Linked DNA regions of Homo sapiens. The protein of the gene in region 2 purifies or fractionates together with the protein of the main gene of each other region. This does not show direct contact. Each region holds a gene or a part of one and is shown on either strand. Other genes may lie near its edges. The genes, in order: LEMD3 and MAST4.

Region 1 (3,819 bases), on a different chromosome or scaffold from region 2:
TCTTAAACTCCTGAGTGCAAGCAATCCTCCTGCCTCCCAAAGTGCTGGGATTACAGGTGTGAGCCACTAAAGCTGGCCAAAATGAATTATTTTTAAAGAAGAAAGAAAGAATGAAAAAACAACTCTCACCTAAATCCCTATTATCAATTAAAAAATGATAAAAATTTTAAATGTAGGTAAATTACATTTTAAAAACTAAATTTTAATAAACTTTATAACACTTTATTATTTAAAAATAAGCTCAATTTTTGTATTTTTCAATTCTACTTTCTAAAGTAGATTTCTATGTATATACTGACCACACTTGTTTTTCTGTGACAGTCTTATAACAAAGTTTTATTTCTACCTCTCCTTATATTACTGCTTTCTAAGCCTTTAGAATGATTCTGACATTATTTTTATTATATTTAGTGAAGACATCTAGCTGTGACTTATGTGGCAACCATCACAAAAATGAATTCTCAACTCTGGCATTTAGTGAAATACACACAAAAATTCAGGCTGCAATTTATCTCATTTCTTATCTTTACAACTTACCTAAGCATAACAACAATAATCTGTGAGTTACAGTAACAAAAGCACGTCGAAAACGACACCAAAAAGACATCAGTGGTCTTGTGGACTGTAAAAACTGCACATCAGTTATATTTGTCAATTCTTCCTCAGGGCCAAAACCAACACACCTATTTAAAAATAAGTAAGGTAGAATTTAAAGTCAAAAACCATTTCTCCCAGTACAGAATGGTCAAAGTGGAAATCAGATCCTTTACCTTATTCCAACATCTTTTCCATTTTCTAAGATCCACTGCAATGAAGTGTTAAATATACCTTCATATTCAGGACCTAAATCCTAACAAGAAAAATAGAGAAAAATAACTATTCTTAATCTACATTCGACTCTCTGTAAAGTATCCTTTATAACACACTCTATATAACATTTTTATTTTAACTACATAACATAAAATATTCATTACAGAAAATTTTAAAAAGAATGAGAAAAAAGAAAAAAAAAGTTAGCATTTTCCCACTACTCCAATATAATCAGTGTTAATATTTTGCTTTTTTATATTTTACATATTTGGGAACTGAGTCTCTCTCACTCAGGCTGGAGTGCAGTGGGACAATTTTGGCTCACTGCAGCCCCCGCCTCCTGGGTTCAAGCAATTCTCCTGCCTCAGCCTCCCAAGTAGTTGGGATTACAAGCATCAGCTACCAGGCCCAGCTAATTTTCTTTTTTCGTACTTTTAGAGAGACGAGGTTTCACCATGCTGGCCAGGCTGGACTTAAACTCCTGACCTCAAGTGATCCGCCAGCCTTGGACTCCCAAAGTGCTGGGATTACAGTCATGAGCCACTGCGCCTGGCTTGGAAGTTCTTTTTTTATCATTAGTTTATCAGTGCCATCATAAGAGTGAATTTACCACTTTTAAAAATGCAATATTATTTATAGATGAACAAATAAATGGCAAACTCTTCCAGATTTGGATGTTTCACAGACAAGTATTCTCAACACATAAAAGCAGTAAGCCTATCAACTAAAGAAAAACTGACCGGGTTACCAATTATAAGATTTGAGCATTCAAGTAAAAAGTAGAATTTTGAAAAACTAGCATTCATCTTTGTGACCTGGACAACTTCACAATACTTGAAGACCTTTCCAATGAGATTTGTGTGACATTAACAAATGCAGTTTTTTGATATGGAATAATGAAATGTGACCAATGCATCTGAAAATGACCAATGCATTTGAAAAATTCTGATTTTTATAAAAACCAATCACGCATAGGTAAAAGATCCATTCAAAGTACAAAATAAAAGGATTTTATGAGACAAGAGTACAAAAAGTTCACTGGCACAGTCTGACATTCCACATTGCAACTAACATTTAAGAAACTACTACTTATAGAGGTTTGGTATGGTATCAAAGAAAATATCTATCTACAATTACCTGAAAAGGCAACTAAAATACTTTCCAATGTTTTGACTACATATCAATGTGAGGCTGGATTTTCATGACATACTTCAACTAAAACATCATGACAGATTGAATAAAGAAGCAGATAAGAATCCAGTCACCTTTTATTAAGCTACACATTTAAGAGATTTATAAAATATATAACAATGCCACTGTTCTCATTGAATGTTTTCATTCTGGAAAAGTTATTTTTCATAAAAATACATTACGTTAACATATAATAGATTCATTTTTCTTATTCTAAATACATAAATTTTTTTCAGTTTTAATTTTTAATATAAACATGTATTTGTAATACATATTTACCATTAGAAAGTAAATATATCTTTCTAATAGAAACAAAAACATATAAATGTATATCTCCCACAAACAAAAGCCAGAGTCCTCAGTAATTATAGGGAACCAAAAAGCTTAAGAACTGCTATGTGTGGGTAGAGTATTTTTAAATTAAAATAGTAAAAATAAATGTGGTATCATATTACACATACTACTGTTCTACTTGTTTTCTTCATGGAACAAAATATTGTGTCAATGTCAGTTTACATGGAAAAAACCCTATTTTTTTCAACAAAATAGTATTCCATTGTATGATTATTCTATACTTTTAATCAACACCTTATTAATGAACATTTAGAATATGTCCAATTTTTAAAAATTTATCAAATATAATACTGTTATAAACACCTTTACCATGTGCCAAGTACTATTTTAGAAACTAGAGGTGCAGCATAAACAACACAGTGAAAAATTCCCTGTGTTCATGGAGCTTGTATTATTAGTATGTCTTTATGTCCCTTTTGAGCAAAAAATGAATTTTTTTTTTTTTTGAGACAGAGTCTTGCTCTGTCACCCAGGCTGGAGTGCAGTGGTGCGAACTCGCCTCACTGCAACCTCCATCTCCAGGGCTCAAGCACAGTCTTGTGCCTCAGCCTCCCAAGTAACTGTGATACTACAGGCGTGTGCCACCACACCCAGCTAATCACTGTATTTTTAGTAGTAGTAGAGATGGGGTTTCGCCATGTTGGCCAGGCTGGTGTCGAACTGCTGGCCTCAAGTGATCCGCCTGCCTTGGCCTCCCAAAGTGCTAGGATTACAGGCATGAGCCACTGTGCCTGGCTCGTAGAGGAAAAAATGAATTTCTAAAAACAGAAATAAAAAGTCATTTCAAATTCTCTCTAAAAAAAAGATTTTTCTAAGAAGTGTCCTATTGTATTTTATCAACAGATTCTTCAACAGCATTGGAAATTATAAGGTTTTCATTTGATCAGTATAGTTTACTTCCTAATATAAAACTGGTAAGTTATTCTAATGTATCAAATTTGCAAATGTAATAAAAAGTTTTATAAAGCAGAACTAATCTTGTTAGGCATCATTACATGAAACTACTATTAGGATTTTTAAGATGGTGAAGATAACTATAGGCCATCTGTTTTTTTAAGCTTGGGTGTTTATTATAGCATTTACAAACATCAAAAAAATTGCAGACAATGTATTTAATGATTGAAAAAAGGTTTATATATGAGATCATTTCAATGGATATTATGAACTTAGAAATAATCATGATGAGAGCTAAACAGCTATCTGCTTAAAAAAATAAAACTACAACATTTAATTTATATATACAGTCATACCTCAGTATTCACAGAGGATTGGTTCCAGGATGCCCCATGGATACCAAAATCCACAGATGTTCAAGTCCCTGATATAAAATTGCATAGTATTTGCATATAACCTATGCACATCATTCTTTATACTTTAAATCATTTCTAGATTACTTATAACACCTAATATAAATGAATATAGATAGCTGTATTTTTAAAATCTGTATTTTTTCCATTGTACTTT
Region 2 (3,819 bases):
TCCTATGGTCCCTGTTGCTGGGGGCTGGAAGCTCCAGCATGCCCCCGGCGGCCTTGGCAGAAGAGGTGTCGCTGCTGGCTGCAGAGGCCTCTCTAACTCCGGCCCTGGTTTCAGGGAAGCTGGAGGAGCAGCTCAGAGACTTTTCCGGGAGGGCCGTGGATCGGAAAGAACTCTGCCCAGTGGCTGAGGGGGACCGTTTCATGCCATTGGGCTTGTCTGCCTCCGTCGGTGGCTTCTGGGGACCGGGCCCTTTCCCTCTGGCCTCAGGGAAGCCCTTCCCCACCCCCGCGGCTGGCCGCTCCGCGCCTTTCAACCGGTTCTCGCTATGCACAAAGGAAAGGCCGGCCTCGAGCTTGTCGCCCTCTGCTGGAGCATAAAGTGCTTCAGTGCATTTCTTCCCTTCCGCCCTTCTGTCGGTGTTGGCGGCCGGCTGACTCGGGCTTTTGTCTGTCTGTCTGTTGTCTGTCTGTTTGCACAGGGTGGGGCAATCTTTCACAGTGGATGGTTTGGGGTGCTTTGGAGACAGGGTTTGCTTTTCACCAACAGCGGACAGTTTCTGGTCCGCTGGCTCACTAGGCCCTGGGTGTCCCGGCCTTGGCAAATGCACAGGCTTCTCCAGCACCTCCAGGGGCCGCCCACCACTGGTGGGTTGTGGCTTGGCGTCTAGAGGAGCCCTGTCAGTGTGCAGTGGGACAGAGGGCCCACCTTCTCCCTGGCCAATCCCATCGCTGGCTTTGTTCTGGGAGCCTGGGGTAGCAGGAAACACATCCGGCCCACTCTTACTGTGGCCCTTCCCCTCTCTGCTAGAGCCACCGAGGGACTGAGTGGCAGGCTCTTTGCCCTTTGTGGCCCCGACACTTGGTTTCTGAGAGGAGAGGGACCGGTCGGGGTGCTTAGTCTTTGGAGGGCCCGGGTCAGGGCCAGGCCGGGGCTTGTGGCTGCTGCTTTCACTGTGCGCAGCAACAGGCTTGGGAGGGTCCTGGGGGCTCGAGCTGGGCTCTGCAGTGCTGGGCTTGGCCCCCGGCTCTCTGCCAGAAGCGTGGCTTGGGGAACTGCAATGCTGCCTGGCAGCCGGGCTGGACAGGTCTTTGGCCGTCAGAGGGGGCGGAGGGATGCTGCTGGGATGCCTTTGTAGAGGCTGCTCCTTCCTTTCAGGTTCCTTGGCACCATCTTTCTGCAAAGATGGGAAACTGGAGAGCTTTTCACTCTTCTCACTCTCAATTCCAGGTGGCTGCAGAGACCGCCTGGCAAGAAGCGCTTCGGGCTTGGGTTCCACGCCACGCCTCACCTTGCCCAGCTCCTTCTCACAGGGAATTCCAGCTGAGTGCAGAGAGGAGTTGTCTCTGGGCGGGGGCCTCGCCTCACCTGGGCCATCTTTGTGGTTCGTTTTCCCACCCGGCGCCCATGCTTTCTCCATGGCCTGGGTCTGTGTATAGAAATCTGGGTGGGTCCTTCCCACAGAGAGGAGATTTTTGGAGTTGTCACTGGTTTTCGCAGTTTCTGGAAAGCACAGTTCCATGGAGGGCTCTCTGCATGTGTCAGCCCTCGCAGCAGAGCGCTCGCTTCTGGCTGTGGGAGGGCCTCTTTCAGACGATTCCCTCAGGCCTGGCTTCTCCCTTGAGGGGGAAGCTTCAGGTGGGAGCGGGCAGCGTGGCCTGGCCAGGTCAGGGCTGTGGAGGTTCTGCCCCAGGCAGGTCAGAAGCTTGGGGTCAGTGGTGTGGTCTTGGTGTTTAGGGGAGCTGCCCTCTCTCTGTTGGGGATTGCTTTCCATGACTGTTCCAGGGCTCCTGGCAGTAGGATGGGGACCTTTCCTGTCCCTCTTGAACTCTGGGTCAGGCAGGGAAACTGCTGGTGAATTCTGGAGACCTCGGCTGGGGGGCAGGAACCAAGGCTCCAGCAGGTAGGATTTATTCATCTTTAAGCTGGAAGGAGAAAGCTCTCTTGCACTGGTGGTATCGTTCTTTTTCCCACTGCTGCTGGGGAGAACTGGTGGCACAGAGGCCCTCACGTCACCACTTGGGCTGGGGCTCTGTGCAGACTCTGGGGAAGGCAGTTCTGTCTTGGAGGCCTGAGGTCCGGACAGGAGAGCAATGTCCAGAGTGCCCTCGATCGGCTTCAGGCATGAGACAGACCTACCTTCCAGCTTATACTCGGAGGGGCTCTTCCTAACAGGGGACTCAGGAGCAACCAAGCCAGGCTTCTCCGTTCCACTGTCCACCCGGCCTGTTAAGGCCTTGAGGGGAACAAAAGAGACGGCACTCATCTGAGCTGCATGGGTGCTGCTGACAAAAGCTCGGCTCTCAGAAGCCGGCGGGGGCTCCTGCTGCCCACCCGTGGGTCGGACTGGGTTCCCTGGCAGGCATTCGTGGGAGCCAGCTGTCATCTTGGGCTTCAGCACAGGGCAGAGGTTGTCCTCTTTGTCCTCAAGTGACATTTTCTTTCGGAGGTAATCGATGTTGGCCAGCTTGCTGTCTAACTTTTCACATCGGAGAAGCTCCTTGGCCTGGGAGGACTTCTCCGTGCCTTCCCCCTTCCCAGAGATGCCCCTGTCGAGGGAGTGGCAGAGACCATCCTGGAGGGTGCCAGGAGCGGGGGCCCGTCTGAAGTCCCCGCCACCCTGGCGGTGCTCCGCAGGCACCCGGCCATCCGACATCGCACCCTCGCTGGCGCGCACGCTGGCCTGCTTGTGAAGAGCATCCTTCAGCAGGCTGCCCAGCGGTGGCGCCTCCTGCATAGACGCTTTGTTTTCAAAAGTACTTGACCTTTCCACAGCCTTCGGATAGACTTTCTTCTCTCTCTCTTCCAGCTTAAACAGAGCAAAGTTTTCCAAATCACTCCCGGGTCCATGGGATTTCTGGTGGGATTCCTGTTTCTCTGGGAAGCCGTCTGCTTTCTTCACCACCACCTTGGCCTTCAGCTTGTCGCGGTCCAGGTCGTCCACAGACTCCTGGCGGCCCACCTTCCGGGAGACTGGGCGTTTCAGGCAGCCTTGCTCCACTGGCCGGGCGCGGCTGAGCGGCGGCACGTCGCACACGTTCTCATCCAGGCTCTGCAGCGGCGCCTCCCGCTGGGACTGCTCCCGCTGCACCTCCTCTTGGGTCACCTCCAGGCTGTGCTTGCGGGAGCACAGGTGCTTCTTGTCACTGCCGTAAGAGGGCGACAGCTTCTCCTCGGACTGCACGCGCTTGAGCAGCGGGGACCTGGGGGGCTCCGCACTCTTGGGCCTCACGATGTGTCTGACGATGGTGGGCGGGGAGTGCATCTTGCTGGGAAAGGCTTGCGCGATCTTGGAATTGCCCAGTGAGTGTCCCAGAAGAGGGGATGGTGACCGCTGCGGGGAGGTGGGTTGCGGGGTTGGAGAGGGCGTCCGGGCCAGCGGGGACAGTGGGATGTTGCCGGCGGACTTTCGCCTTCCGGACCGGTACCGCTGCCCGCCGAGTTTGGGTGCAAGACCGTGGAGAGTGCTGGGCCGGATGTGCCCGGACCCTGCTGGGGAATTGGGGGCACTAGAACTAGGGGAGCTGCTCTGGGAGGAATTAGTACCTGTGGATGGAAAACAGAAGGCTGTGAGCATCCATGGTCATTTTCCCCTTTTTTTCACAGTTGTAGCCCAGACTGTATTAGGTAAGGCCAGGTAAGATCAGCAAATTGTCTCAGCATTTAGCTAGTGGAATAAACACTTTTCAGATAAACCTCTCCAGGCCAAGGTTTAGCCCCATACTTCTTGACTTATTTGTTTGGTCAGAATAGCCACATCTTATGACCTCTCTATAAATCTGTCTTTATAATTTACACCTTCAACCTGCTTTCTTTCAGCTG

The links.
Region 1: the proteins of MAST4 (region 2) and LEMD3 fractionate together in Homo sapiens (co-fractionation; one large-scale study listed by BioGRID). This does not show direct contact.

The regions. Positions count from the first base shown.
Region 1 is NC_000012.12:65,235,533-65,239,351, reverse strand, and holds part of LEMD3 (inner nuclear membrane protein Man1), read right to left. Parts: intron 851-3,819; coding exon 771-850; intron 684-770; coding exon 538-683; intron 1-537.
Region 2 is NC_000005.10:67,162,871-67,166,689, reverse strand, and holds part of MAST4 (microtubule-associated serine/threonine-protein kinase 4), read right to left. Parts: intron 3,544-3,819; coding exon 1-3,543.